Linked DNA regions of Homo sapiens: regions 1, 2 and 3 are each reported to be linked to region 4. The links are microRNA targets in miRTarBase. Many come from high-throughput screens and were not tested one by one. Region 4 holds a microRNA gene; each other region holds the end of a gene's coding sequence.
Evidence for each region. Region 4 holds the annotated microRNA hsa-miR-181b-5p (AACAUUCAUUGCUGUCGGUGGGU, at 987-1,009, shown strand). A microRNA usually pairs through its seed, bases 2 to 8, with sites in the 3' UTR of a target mRNA and lowers its output. Matches are read on the target gene's strand: a 7mer-m8 pairs with bases 2 to 8, a 7mer-A1 pairs with bases 2 to 7 and ends in A, and an 8mer does both.

Region 1: miRTarBase lists USP10 as a target of hsa-miR-181b-5p. The part of its 3' UTR that is shown has no 7-base or 8-base seed match.
Region 2: the mRNA of ELN is a reported target of hsa-miR-181b-5p. Seed matches in the 3' UTR shown: 7mer-A1 at 525-531.
Region 3: the mRNA of CENPO is a reported target of hsa-miR-181b-5p. The part of its 3' UTR that is shown has no 7-base or 8-base seed match.

What each region holds. Positions count from the first base shown.
Region 1 is chr16:84,778,837-84,781,970 of GRCh38, reverse strand. USP10 (ubiquitin specific peptidase 10) reads right to left here. Exons shown (of 14, transcript NM_005153.3): 14 at 2,049-3,076. The coding sequence ends at 2,889. It also overlaps a transcript of LOC105371378 not described here. Among named protein-coding and RNA genes, the nearest start is that of CRISPLD2, 40 kb to the left of the region's middle.
Region 2 is chr7:74,068,234-74,071,233 of GRCh38, forward strand. ELN (elastin) reads left to right here. Exons shown (of 33, transcript NM_000501.4): 33 at 424-1,674. The coding sequence ends at 467. Among named protein-coding and RNA genes, the nearest start is that of ELN-AS1, 7.5 kb to the left of the region's middle.
Region 3 is chr2:24,817,244-24,820,392 of GRCh38, reverse strand. CENPO (centromere protein O) reads right to left here. Exons shown (of 8, transcript NM_001322101.2): 7 at 2,552-2,723; 8 at 1-1,039. The coding sequence ends at 2,587. ADCY3 (adenylate cyclase 3) reads left to right here. Exons shown (of 22, transcript NM_004036.5): 22 at 279-1,224. The coding sequence ends at 461. Among named protein-coding and RNA genes, the nearest start is that of CENPO, 25 kb to the right of the region's middle.
Region 4 is chr1:198,856,776-198,859,933 of GRCh38, reverse strand. It overlaps MIR181B1 (microRNA 181b-1), which reads left to right and starts at 952; the gene lies at 952-1,061. All of the region lies in intron 2 of MIR181A1HG (MIR181A1 host gene), which reads left to right. MIR181A1 (microRNA 181a-1) reads left to right here and starts at 781; the gene lies at 781-890.

The DNA.
Region 1 (3,134 bases), not on the chromosome of region 4:
TTACAAGAAGGGGTCCCACAGTAGGCCGTCTGCAGGCTGAGGAGCAAGGAAGCTAATCCAAGTCCCAAAACGGAAGAACTTGGAGTCCGATGTTCAAGGGCAGGAAGCATCCAGCACAGGAGAAAGATGGAGGCCACAAGACTAGTCTAGTCTTTCCACATTCTCCTGCCTGCTTTTATTCCGGCCACGCTGGCAGCTGATTAGATGGTGCCCACCCAGATTGAGGGTGGGTCTGCCTTTCCCAGCCCACTGACACAAATGTTAATCTCCTTTGGCAACACCCTCACAGACACACCCAGAAACAATACTTTGCATCCTTCAATCCAATCAAGTTGACACTCCGTATTAACCATCGCAAGTTGAGTGCAAAATCTCAAGAACAGCTAACAGGGACAGACCCAAAATTCACTGGCACCCTAGAAAATGTCTGGATTTGCTAGAATCACCTAATTCTGTATCCCTGGGCCAATTATTCACTTGAGGGACCATATTCTGCCCTGCTCTGGGCTTCCCTGTCTGTGGCTGGGTGTGTGCTGATCCTGCCTGAGCAAAACAAAACTTGGGCAGCCACACGTTCATCACGAATACAGCCTCAGGAGTCAGGCGGCATGAGGTTATGGGCTCCGTTTGTGTCGCCCCCAGTATTCATCTTTGAAGCCTGAACCCCCGGCGGAATACTAGGAAGTGGGGCCTTTTAGGTATAGATGAAATCACAAAGGTGGAGGCCCACAGTGGGATGAGTGTCCTTGTAAGAGAAACAGACCAGGGTTCACTCTGCCCTGTGAAGACATAGTGAGCAAGCGGCTGTCTCCAGGCCAAGAAGCAGGCCTTCCCCAGACAGGTCTGCTGGCATCTGCTCTTGGACTTCTAGCCTCTAGAACTGTGAGAAATAAATGTTTGTTGTCTAAGCCACTCAGACTATGGTTAACAGCCCAAAACAACACAGGGGTTTTGCAGGCTGTCTCGCTAGCACTAGCTTGCATCTTTCTATGAGCAGCAGCAAGATTTATTGTGAAGAGCAAAAGAACAAAGCTTCCAGTGTGGAAGGGGACCCAAACGGGTTGCCACTGCTGGCTGGGGCGGCCAGCTTTTATTCCCTTATTTGTCCCCTCCCATGTTCTGTTTTTGTCCTATCAGAGTGCTCTTTTTTCAGTCCTCCCTGTGATTGGCTGCTTTTAGACTCCTGCTGATTGGTGCGTTTTAAGAACCGATTGGTGCATTTTACAAACCTCTTGCTAGCTACAGAGTGCTGGTTGGTGCGTTTTACAATCCTAGCTACAAAGTGCTGATTGGTGCATTTTACCATCCTCTTAGAGGACAGAAAAGTTCTCCAAGTCCCCACTTGACCCAGGAAGTCCAGCTGGCTTCACCTCTCAATATGAGTTATAATTCAGCCAAGCAAATCACAATAGAATTACAAAGGGTAAGTAGGTTAGACGGACAACACTTGTACAGAAAGTTTAGGAAGCTCTGAACCCCAGATGGCACCAGGCTACAATCAGAAATACCAGATGGTAAGAGCAAGAACTTGAGAGAAAGGCTCAGACCACGTTAAAACCCCTTCTCTGTAGATCTCAGGACACCACAATCATCCACACAGGGCCAGAAGCCGGGGCACGGGCACCCTTGCACGTGACATCCCTCTCTCCATGTCTTCCGTCTCAGAAGGCTTCCTTCCCACTACTGAGGGTGGCGTCTGGAGGCACCGCTCAGCCGCCCCAGTGGCACTCAACTGAAGAGCATTTAGCCTTGACCTACAGCAACTATTTTGGTGATACTGAAAACGGTGGGCTATAGAAACAAGGGATGAGGAGGGGAAGGGGAGAAAACCTCCTCCTTTCTGCCAATCGAAGAGTCAAAAACTTCGTGTACCCAAATCACTAATCCATTTGAAAATACTAAACAAGCATAACCTGAGTGGTGGTTCAGCTTCCACAAACACGTCGAGCTGATCGAAGGGCAGATTTTAATTCTGCAGGCAAACTCATGCCCCCATGAATTTCAGTTACCCGAAAAGGCATTCGCATTCAAAGAAACACGCACACACCTTTAAACCAACTTTGTGATTTTTATTGATGGGCGACAACTTTATACTCCTAGATATCACTAAACTGTGTACAATTAGGGACGCAGCATTAGAGAAGAGCAGACAGCAGAATTAAACAGAGCAGACTGAAGGAGAGATCTTCATTATTTGCCCATTTTTCATTATGTGTACACAGAAGCATGAATGCAATTTGAAATCTTTTAATGGCAATAAAGTTACAATCACCCATCTATGTAGACTAACATTTTAACTCCAAATATTTGATCTGCAATGTGTACGTAAGCAGTTTCTCTCAGTACAATTATTAAAATTTTTCCTGTTAGGAACCAGCAACTTATTTTTTATGTTTATTTTTCTTTTGAAGTAAGAACTAGTTCTTCTTTGATAACTGGCTCATTTTTATCATTTATCAAAAACTAAAGGGTAGGGAAGAAAAGTGTGATGGATTAAAAAATTTCTTTTTTAAGGAAAGATAAAATTCATTTTCACAAATTTACAAGTGTTGTTGCTGGTGCAGGATTTATTCTACTAAGCAATGAGACTGGGGATCAAATCCACTTTCTTATCTCAGGAATCAGCATTATTTCAGAAATATGGGTTTTTGTGTATTTTCTAAAATCAAGCAACAGTCTGTTTCAACCAAATGATTTTGATTTGGAAGTTAGAGTCAACAGAAGCTGTGTTGTGCACGAACCCCAAGGCATCTCCTTTTCATTCTAGCCCATTTTTGCAAAGGGAGAAAGAGTTTCTCTCTAAAGAGCCACTAAAGAGAGGCGGGAAGTGAGTGTGAGGTGGTGTCCTACGAAGCGGGCACTGGGCGCACACACAGCGCACACAGGGTTTACAGCAGGTCCACTCGGCGGTAATACAGGAGGTAGGCTGTGCGTTCAGCAGTTGGTTTCACCACCTGGTACTGGTTGATCACCTTGACTGTCTGGTCATCGATGCGCAGCCAGCCATTCAGACCGATCTGGAAGACGTCTGTAGTGTAATGGCCGCCCGTCGCACTGTTGCCGTGATGGTAGACCACTGGAAGAGAGCCCAGCAGGCAGCAGAGTGAGAACAGCACTGCACACGAATCATTACA
Region 2 (3,000 bases), not on the chromosome of region 4:
TGATGCCCTCTCAGATGTATGGGTCCACCCCACTCCCTGAGAGGGCCGTCTCCTGCAGACACTGACTCTCCCTTCATCCCATGTTCCTTGATGGAGCTGCTCTTAGCCTTTCCCCGAAAGGCTTCTTGGAGCAGTGGAGCCAGGAGCCAGTGCCAGGCCCCGTCCTTCCCCAGCCAGGCCCCATGACCTGCCCCCTTTTCTGCGAGCGTTGGTTTCATCCAAGTAATATCTTGGGGGCTTCTCCCGCCCCATCTGTCCAGTGGAAGTTGATGGCATGGATCAGGTCTGAGTTTGGCCTGGGGCCATGACTTGGCTTCTCTTGGCTTCTTGGAGCCTCCATTCGAGTGGGTCAGAGCAGGCGGGGATTAGAGCCGAAACTGAGAGGGGCCGGACTCACAGTGATGTGCACCTCCTCCCGTCCAGGTGGGGCCTGCCTGGGGAAAGCTTGTGGCCGGAAGAGAAAATGAGCTTCCTAGGACCCCTGACTCACGACCTCATCAACGTTGGTGCTACTGCTTGGTGGAGAATGTAAACCCTTTGTAACCCCATCCCATGCCCCTCCGACTCCCCACCCCAGGAGGGAACGGGCAGGCCGGGCGGCCTTGCAGATCCACAGGGCAAGGAAACAAGAGGGGAGCGGCCAAGTGCCCCGACCAGGAGGCCCCCTACTTCAGAGGCAAGGGCCATGTGGTCCTGGCCCCCCACCCCATCCCTTCCCACCTAGGAGCTCCCCCTCCACACAGCCTCCATCTCCAGGGGAACTTGGTGCTACACGCTGGTGCTCTTATCTTCCTGGGGGGAGGGAGGAGGGAAGGGTGGCCCCTCGGGGAACCCCCTACCTGGGGCTCCTCTAAAGATGGTGCAGACACTTCCTGGGCAGTCCCAGCTCCCCCTGCCCACCAGGACCCACCGTTGGCTGCCATCCAGTTGGTACCCAAGCACCTGAAGCCTCAAAGCTGGATTCGCTCTAGCATCCCTCCTCTCCTGGGTCCACTTGGCCGTCTCCTCCCCACCGATCGCTGTTCCCCACATCTGGGGCGCTTTTGGGTTGGAAAACCACCCCACACTGGGAATAGCCACCTTGCCCTTGTAGAATCCATCCGCCCATCCGTCCATTCATCCATCGGTCCGTCCATCCATGTCCCCAGTTGACCGCCCGGCACCACTAGCTGGCTGGGTGCACCCACCATCAACCTGGTTGACCTGTCATGGCCGCCTGTGCCCTGCCTCCACCCCCATCCTACACTCCCCCAGGGCGTGCGGGGCTGTGCAGACTGGGGTGCCAGGCATCTCCTCCCCACCCGGGGTGTCCCCACATGCAGTACTGTATACCCCCCATCCCTCCCTCGGTCCACTGAACTTCAGAGCAGTTCCCATTCCTGCCCCGCCCATCTTTTTGTGTCTCGCTGTGATAGATCAATAAATATTTTATTTTTTGTCCTGGATATTTGGGGATTATTTTTGATTGTTGATATTCTCTTTTGGTTTTATTGTTGTGGTTCATTGAAAAAAAAAGATAATTTTTTTTTCTGATCCGGGGAGCTGTATCCCCAGTAGAAAAAACATTTTAATCACTCTAATATAACTCTGGATGAAACACACCTTTTTTTTTAATAAGAAAAGAGAATTAACTGCTTCAGAAATGACTAATAAATGAAAAACCTTTAAAGGAAACTGTGTCTTAGCTTCCTTCGTATGATTTAATCTGCCTTCAACTCGCTGGCCTGGATGGGGATAAGGGCTCTGCTTCAGGGAACCTCCACCACCCACAGTGTATTTGAGAGGTTGCCCAACCAAAAGCCCCTGCTGCTGGCTTCTGGGGCATCGATCTTTCTCCAAGTTTGGCTTGTACTTTAACAATGAGGCCAGGAGTTTGAGACCCACCTGGACAACATAGCTGTCCAGTGGAGAATCACTTTGTACCATATAGCTACAAAAAAAAAAAAAATTACCCAAGATTGGTGGTGGTGCATGCCTGTGGTCCCAGCTACTCAGGAGGCTGAGGTGGGAGGATCGCTTGAGCCCAGGATTTCGAGGCTGCAGTGAGCTATGATTGCGCCACTGCACTCCAGCCTGGGTGAGACAGCAAGATCCTGTCTCGAGAGAGAGAGAGAGAGAAACAGAAAGAGACAGAGAGGAAAGATGGCTGACCTAAGAAAATGCAGAAGACAGTCAAAGGTAACCATTTTCCTCCGAAACAGTCCCCTCTGAGGAAGACCCACTCTCATGCGTGGCCATGTAAGGCCATTTGGCTTGAGAAGTTTAAGAAGTGATACCCAGCAGCAGGTTCAGCTCCACCCTTACTCAGATGCACCCATTCCCATTCTGGCCCTTCCTCCTCCCCTTGAGGCCAGAAATCCGTGGGGCCCGGGAATGTGTTCACCTGCAGCCCACATCCCTACCTCTAGACCACGCTCTGGATACCAGATACTGGAATTCCCTTCCCCAACCACCAAGCCCACTTCCAGGGCTCACTCAGCCTCAGGCCTGTGCCACCCTCCTGAGAGCGGGCCCCGTGCTGAGTGTGCACACCTCTAAGCCAGAAATGTGGCAACAGAGCTGTTCGTGGGGAGTGTGGGTGGGGCTCACCATGCAGACTGGAGCATATGTGGGTTTGCATACGAGGATCCTTGCGATCCCAGAAGGAGCTGGGAGGGAAAGAGAAAGCTGGTGGAGGGTATGCTCAGAGAGAGCTTCCCAGAGGACAGTAAAGGGCAAAAAACATTTTACCAGGCAAAGAATAGAACAGAGAGGAGGGTCAGGCCTTTCAGGCAGAGGACAGGACAACTAGATGTCTGGTAGGAGAGGGCAGTGCTGAGGACTTATGGAGGATGATCAGGAGGGGGTGAGCGGCGTGGTTCAAGGAGATGCACAAGAGGGTTGCTGTAATAATCCAGGGAGGGGTGACACAGCCTGCCCTAGAGTGGTGACAAAGTAGATCCATCCATCCATCCATCCACCCATCCACCCACCCATCTGTCCACCTACCCACCCATCAAC
Region 3 (3,149 bases), not on the chromosome of region 4:
AGTTTCCAGGTAACAGTGCTGCCACCCAGGTGACCATGGCCATCCTAGGAGAGAAGTCTCTGGATGAGAGGAGGCCCCCAGCCAGTCACTCCAGGGTTCTCCTTCCCACCCGCTGCTCGCCACGGGTGGAAGGGCTTGGCCCTGGGAGGTTTGGGGAGTGTCCCGTACTGCTTGGGACCCATGGATCAGTGCTCGGCTCCAACCACCCAAAGCCCCCACCCGCCCTCAGTCTAGGCTCCCCCCGTAACGCCACGTTCTTGCTCCCCCTCCCTCTCCAGGTGGTAGAAGAAACCCAAGTCATCCTCCGAGAGTACGGCTTCCGCTTTGTGAGGCGAGGCCCCATCTTTGTGAAGGGGAAGGGGGAGCTGCTGACCTTCTTCTTGAAGGGGCGGGATAAGCTAGCCACCTTCCCCAATGGCCCCTCTGTCACACTGCCCCACCAGGTGGTGGACAACTCCTGAATGGCCTCGAGCCTGCAACAGTCCAAACCGGAAGGGAGAATTTATTTTTTGAAACTGAAGGAAGTCCCGACCTTCCTGGATTGAAGTGCACACTCATGGACTTTAGGTTTAGAAACCTCCTCAGCCTTCATTTGTTCGTGGATGTGTGAGCTCTGAGGGTGGCCCTGCTATTCCTGTGTGTGCCTGTAGTGTCCCCAGCATAGGGGTCTTAGGCATAGGGCTGAACAGTCCTTCCAGAGCCCTCGTTCCAATCCCTGCCGTCCTTGCCCCTGAGGGGCCCTGACCACTGTGAGCAGGAGGGTGGCAGAGCTGGGACAAAGCTGCCTTTGCCGCTGGGCTTTCCGGGACTGTGGAGGGAGCACAGGCGGGGAAGCTCCACTTCAGACAGGGCTTGGTGGGGCAGGACATGGCTCCCATTTTGAAGGGAGGTCTCCATGTGGTCCGAGTGAGGTGAGACGGCCCTCGTCCTGGTGTTCCTGATCATCTTGAAAGGTTCTTCTGGAACTCCTGTCCCCTTAGTCATGAGAACAGAAAGTGCAATATTTCCTTTCACCTGGCAGGGGAGGGGGGATTTATTTCTGAAAGAAAAATATATAAACAGATCTTCTACATTTATATTTTTAATCTTCTGTTAAATACACTTTCCGATATTGCCTTGCCTTTTGAGCTCTTGCTACAGTCGCCTTTGCTACTGCTTTAAGAGAATTTACAGGTATTGATAAAGAACAAGACTGTTTTATTAAAAGCTTTATTCAACTTGAAAGTGATTGTGGAAATTCTGTTAATATCACTTATCTGAGGAGTGCTGGTACTTTGCTGACTCATGCCACTGGTCCCCACCACAGGCCTGGAAGGCAAGAGCTTGAAGGTCTCATCATAGCTCACTGTACCCCGGAACGCCTGCTGCCTGGCCCTGTCTCTTTTATTCTTAAACTTTCTTCTAAAGGGTACTCCAAGCTGGCTTTAATCCCCTGCACTGTTCCTGGAGCTCTCCCACACGGAGGTTACTTCGTGGCCATTGCAGGGTTAAGTCTGAACGTGGCCTTGGGCCAGTCATGACTCCTATCTGTGCCTGGGCAAGGGAGGGCTACAGGAGAACCTGGTCAGCCAGACACAGGTTTTCATATCTGTGAGTGACCCACACGCCAAGGAACCAGAGGTGCCAGCAGGTCAGAGGCCCGTGGTTACGGCAAATCAGGACACTAACCGGAGAGCCTGCAGGAGAGGGAAGACCCGGGGGGCGCCTGAGTCCCCCTGAGTTAATGGGCAGATTTCTAACTAACTAACTGTGCTTTTTCAGAGGGGACTTCCTAGTACATTCACAGCTCTACTAAACTTTTAGGAAACAAAATATGAGACACACTGAACTCTGATTATTTTATCCTACTGCTTTCTCACACCATATTTATAAAGCAGTGGCCTAGAATACACTGCGCCTAACCAAACAAACACTGAAGAACTTCCTTTTCAAAAGTTTCAAACAGGAAAATGAGGAAAAATTACTTAAAGCTTTCATAAAAGCTAAAAATACTTTCCTTTTAAAAAAAAAAAAATATTGGGTCTTCCTTATTATCTTCATTAGTGAATGTGGGTTATTTTTCCATTTATTTAGATCAGTGTTTCTCAACAGAATCAAGCTATTGCAGTTTGAGTGGAGTGCTACATTTCTGTGAGAGCCCTTTCTGAAAATTTTAGGATTTTTGGCATCTCTATTCCTGGCATTAAATTAGTAGCAGTTACTGTGACAACTTAATTGCCTGGTCTTTCCCAGAGTTAATGCCCTCAATAATTTGATATTTTTCCATAAGTACTTCTTGAGTGATACACCTTTTTCAAAAAATGGCTTTTATTGCCCCACAAATGATTTTCAACTAAAATGTATGATCAACTAATACCTTTAAAAAACATCTTGAGCATTTTAAGAAGGGACCAGGTGATCATGGGAATTGTTCAAAAATGCCAGTGTCTATACTCAAACCTGCTCTTCCATCCAGATGAACAGGTAGGTGTCTGTTTTCATCAGAAGGGTGATGTACCCTTCATCAGACAGTACTACCCACCTGGTACTGTCTTCAGTACTGGTTACTTACCTCTGATGTGCTCCCAGTGCAGTGAAAACAATCTATTAGGAGACCAGACTCATATCCAACTTTTCTCCTTTTCTTGTAAATGAGGCAAACACTTGATGCAAGGGCTTCGTACAGAACAGAGTTTCATGAGATGCTCGTTGCTCCTCCCATGAAGTGGATAATACTTCCACTCCTAAAAAGAAAGATTCCATCAATCTCATTCAGTGCAGCTGGGGGAATCGGAGCCTGGATCACTGATATTCAATCTCATTCAGTGCAGCTGGGGGAATCGGAGCCTGGATCACTGACATTCAATCTCACTCAGTGCAGCTGGGGGAATCGGAACCTGGATCACTGATATTCTGGACCCACTGGACCCATACAGCTTTTTTTTTTGGTCTGGACTAAGGCTGCCCCTTACTGGACCAATGCAATCTAGAGACTGGGGACTGGAATCTAACTGCGCAGAGAAATCAAAGACCGATGGTGTGAAATCTGGGGCAGCTTCAAAATTTCTGCCTCCTAAAAACATTTCACCCAATTTTTCATTATTGCCCATGTCACATTTAACTGAAACAGGTTCACCAAAAAATCTCTCTCTCAGCCAGTCTGGAAGGAT
Region 4 (3,158 bases):
AATTCAGTAGAGTTCATAATAATTTTAAAATAAGCATTAATGATAAAACAGTCTTAGAAAATAAGACTATGAAAAGAATCCCTCACCCATCTACCCATAAAGAGATGTTAGATGTTAGATGTTATTTAAAATAATAGGAAATGAACGGTTTTGTAGCATACATAGATTGTATTTACCTTTCACTGTATTCATGAACTCTTTGTGCCATAAACTAAGAAAAATGTATTGAGCTGGTTTCTTCACTTATAATTTGTTCAGCATTTTCTAAATAAGATTGTTCTTAGGAAGTTATACTAATTTTAAAACCTTATTTTAGAATAAAATATAGTAAATATATAATGTAAATATAAATGATATCATCAATGCCAATTTGAGGAAATCTAAGGTAATTCTGTTTAATTTCTGTATAAGCTATATACATAATGCTTGCTTACTATAAGCGTAACAATATTTAAATTATAAGATATTGTTTGGATTTTATACCACAAAGTACTTTGAATAACAAATTGTCCCTGTCTTTAACAGTGAGATAATTCCATCTCTGGAACTAGCCCAATATCGGCCATGTTTTTGCTTAATGAAACCGATCCTTTTCTCTCATACAATGTGATGTGGAGGTTTGCCAAACTCTTTGTTGGAAGAATCATGCTTCTTATTTGTCTTCTTTTGTAGTCTTTTGAAATGGCATAAAAATGCATAAAATATATGACTAAAGGTACTGTTGTTTCTGTCTCCCATCCCCTTCAGATACTTACAGATACTGTAAAGTGAGTAGAATTCTGAGTTTTGAGGTTGCTTCAGTGAACATTCAACGCTGTCGGTGAGTTTGGAATTAAAATCAAAACCATCGACCGTTGATTGTACCCTATGGCTAACCATCATCTACTCCATGGTGCTCAGAATTCGCTGAAGACAGGAAACCAAAGGTGGACACACCAGGACTTTCTCTTCCCTGTGCAGAGATTATTTTTTAAAAGGTCACAATCAACATTCATTGCTGTCGGTGGGTTGAACTGTGTGGACAAGCTCACTGAACAATGAATGCAACTGTGGCCCCGCTTTTTGCTGTCACAATCAACAGATATTCCATCTTTGAAAGATGTGTTCAAAATAGTACTATTGTTCTTTAAGTTTTCCAATTCGTCAGCATCTTCTGGTTTATTTATTCAATTTATATCATGTGATGAGATTTCAATGAAAAAGACTCTGGTTTAAACAAGAATAATGCTTCTCTATCTTTTGTATGCTATAAACAGAGCATGTTTTAGAAAAGGCAAAACTATTTTGTCCATCAAACGTACAGTATCATCATCTAGGTTAGCTCACCTTCCTACTGTTGTAGTGTGAGTGAAAAAAAGACATAAAGTAGGACCTCAGCACCCATGCCATTGACAATAACACACTTACAAATATGTGTTCTTTACAACTTTTGTTAGATGTTCTGGTCAAAGTGGGATAGAAACACCAGATAATTTTAGCTTTCTGCTTCTCTGGGTGAGGATTTGCTCATATAATTCTGCCTCTTGCTATGTAACATGCTAAATACGAAGAAAATAATATATACATAACTATATAACTATCAGAACACTCATGACAGTCATATAGTAGATTGATTTTCCCAATTCAATTTCCACTTTAAAACTTTACCCACTTTCTATGTGCATGAACTGCGTGGTTAGACTTACAGTCATGGCCCATTAATTGCCTCATGTTTACTCATCTGACTTTGCAAGTAAAAGCCTATGCATATCATGGTTTTTCTTAAGTGGTTTGCCTCTGCATTTTTATATAGGACATCTGTCATTAAATTTGATCACAGCAGTTTTAAGTTTACCATTTGTAATGATAATAATTATATAGCAAAATAAAATGCTTTCTCAAGTGTCTATGTTTGGAGTACCTGGATGGCTTCAATGTTCATTTTTTTTTAATGGTCAAATAAATTATCCTTTCTTTTCCTTGATCTTTTAAATCCCATTTGCCTTTAACTCCCATTACAGAAACCCATTGCTGGGACCCGGCTCTTGACCTCATCATAACCTTAAAATATTTTACCACATTCGATATCTAATATCCCACTCTGTCTATCACTTCTTACCATTCTAGTTTCTCATTCTCTTATCTCCAAGGCAACTGTCCTTTCAATATCAGTGTTGCTGAAAAATAAAATCACATCATCATATGGACACATTAATACACATACTCAGGGGCCTCCAAGTGCCTCAGTCCCTCAACTCTGACCCAGCATTTCTTCTACTCCACTCCCTCATGTTTAGCCTAAATGTTTACCTCTTTCCTCAACTGCTCCTTTCCACGATTCCACTCTCAACAGATGAACTGACTTCTGTTTTTCATTGAGAAGCTTGAGTCCATGTGATTATTCCCTCCACTTCCTTGTTTATAGCCTATGAATGCGTAGGATTCTGCCCTGAGTTGTCTCACGTGAGCCTCCTGCCTTGCTTGGGACATCTCTTCCCCTGTGATATCCCCCTCCTCTCTCACCATCTGGCTCCATTTCACATGTAACAAGGTTCAGTTTTCTCTCTTCTCAAATAGAAAACAAAAGAAATTTGAGAAAAACTTCTCTATACTTGCTTTATCCTCAAGTTACTTACCCCACTTCTTTTCTTCTTTTTAAAAGCTAAGATTTTAGAAATAGTACATAGTAGCCTGCAGCACTGTCTATATTTGTTTACTTCCCATTTCACCTCAACTATATGTAATTTGGCATCTTCTACCATTTCTCTCTCCCACTTGTGCATAACATCATTCTAATGACACTGCTTTTCCCCAAATCACCAGTGAGCTCCATATTGCCAAATACAAATCAAACTTTTCTGCCAGTTGTCCTACTCGAACTCCCCTTGATGCCTGACACAGCTGACCACTTCTTCCTAAACTCCAGTCCCCATTCACTTTTGTGATCCTACTCTCATTTGGATTTCTCTCTTTATTACAGTGATGTCCTATTTATTTATTTATTTTTAAGAAGCTCTTCATCTGCTTGAACTCCCAATGCCAGTATCCTTCTGAGACCCATTCTTAACTTTATGGCTTTTTTTCTCTTCTCTTGTCTCACAATCTTTGAAGGAATCTCAGGCACGTGAATGATGTTTACATCTGCTCAGATGCTGCAGATACCCAAGTCTTTATCTCCA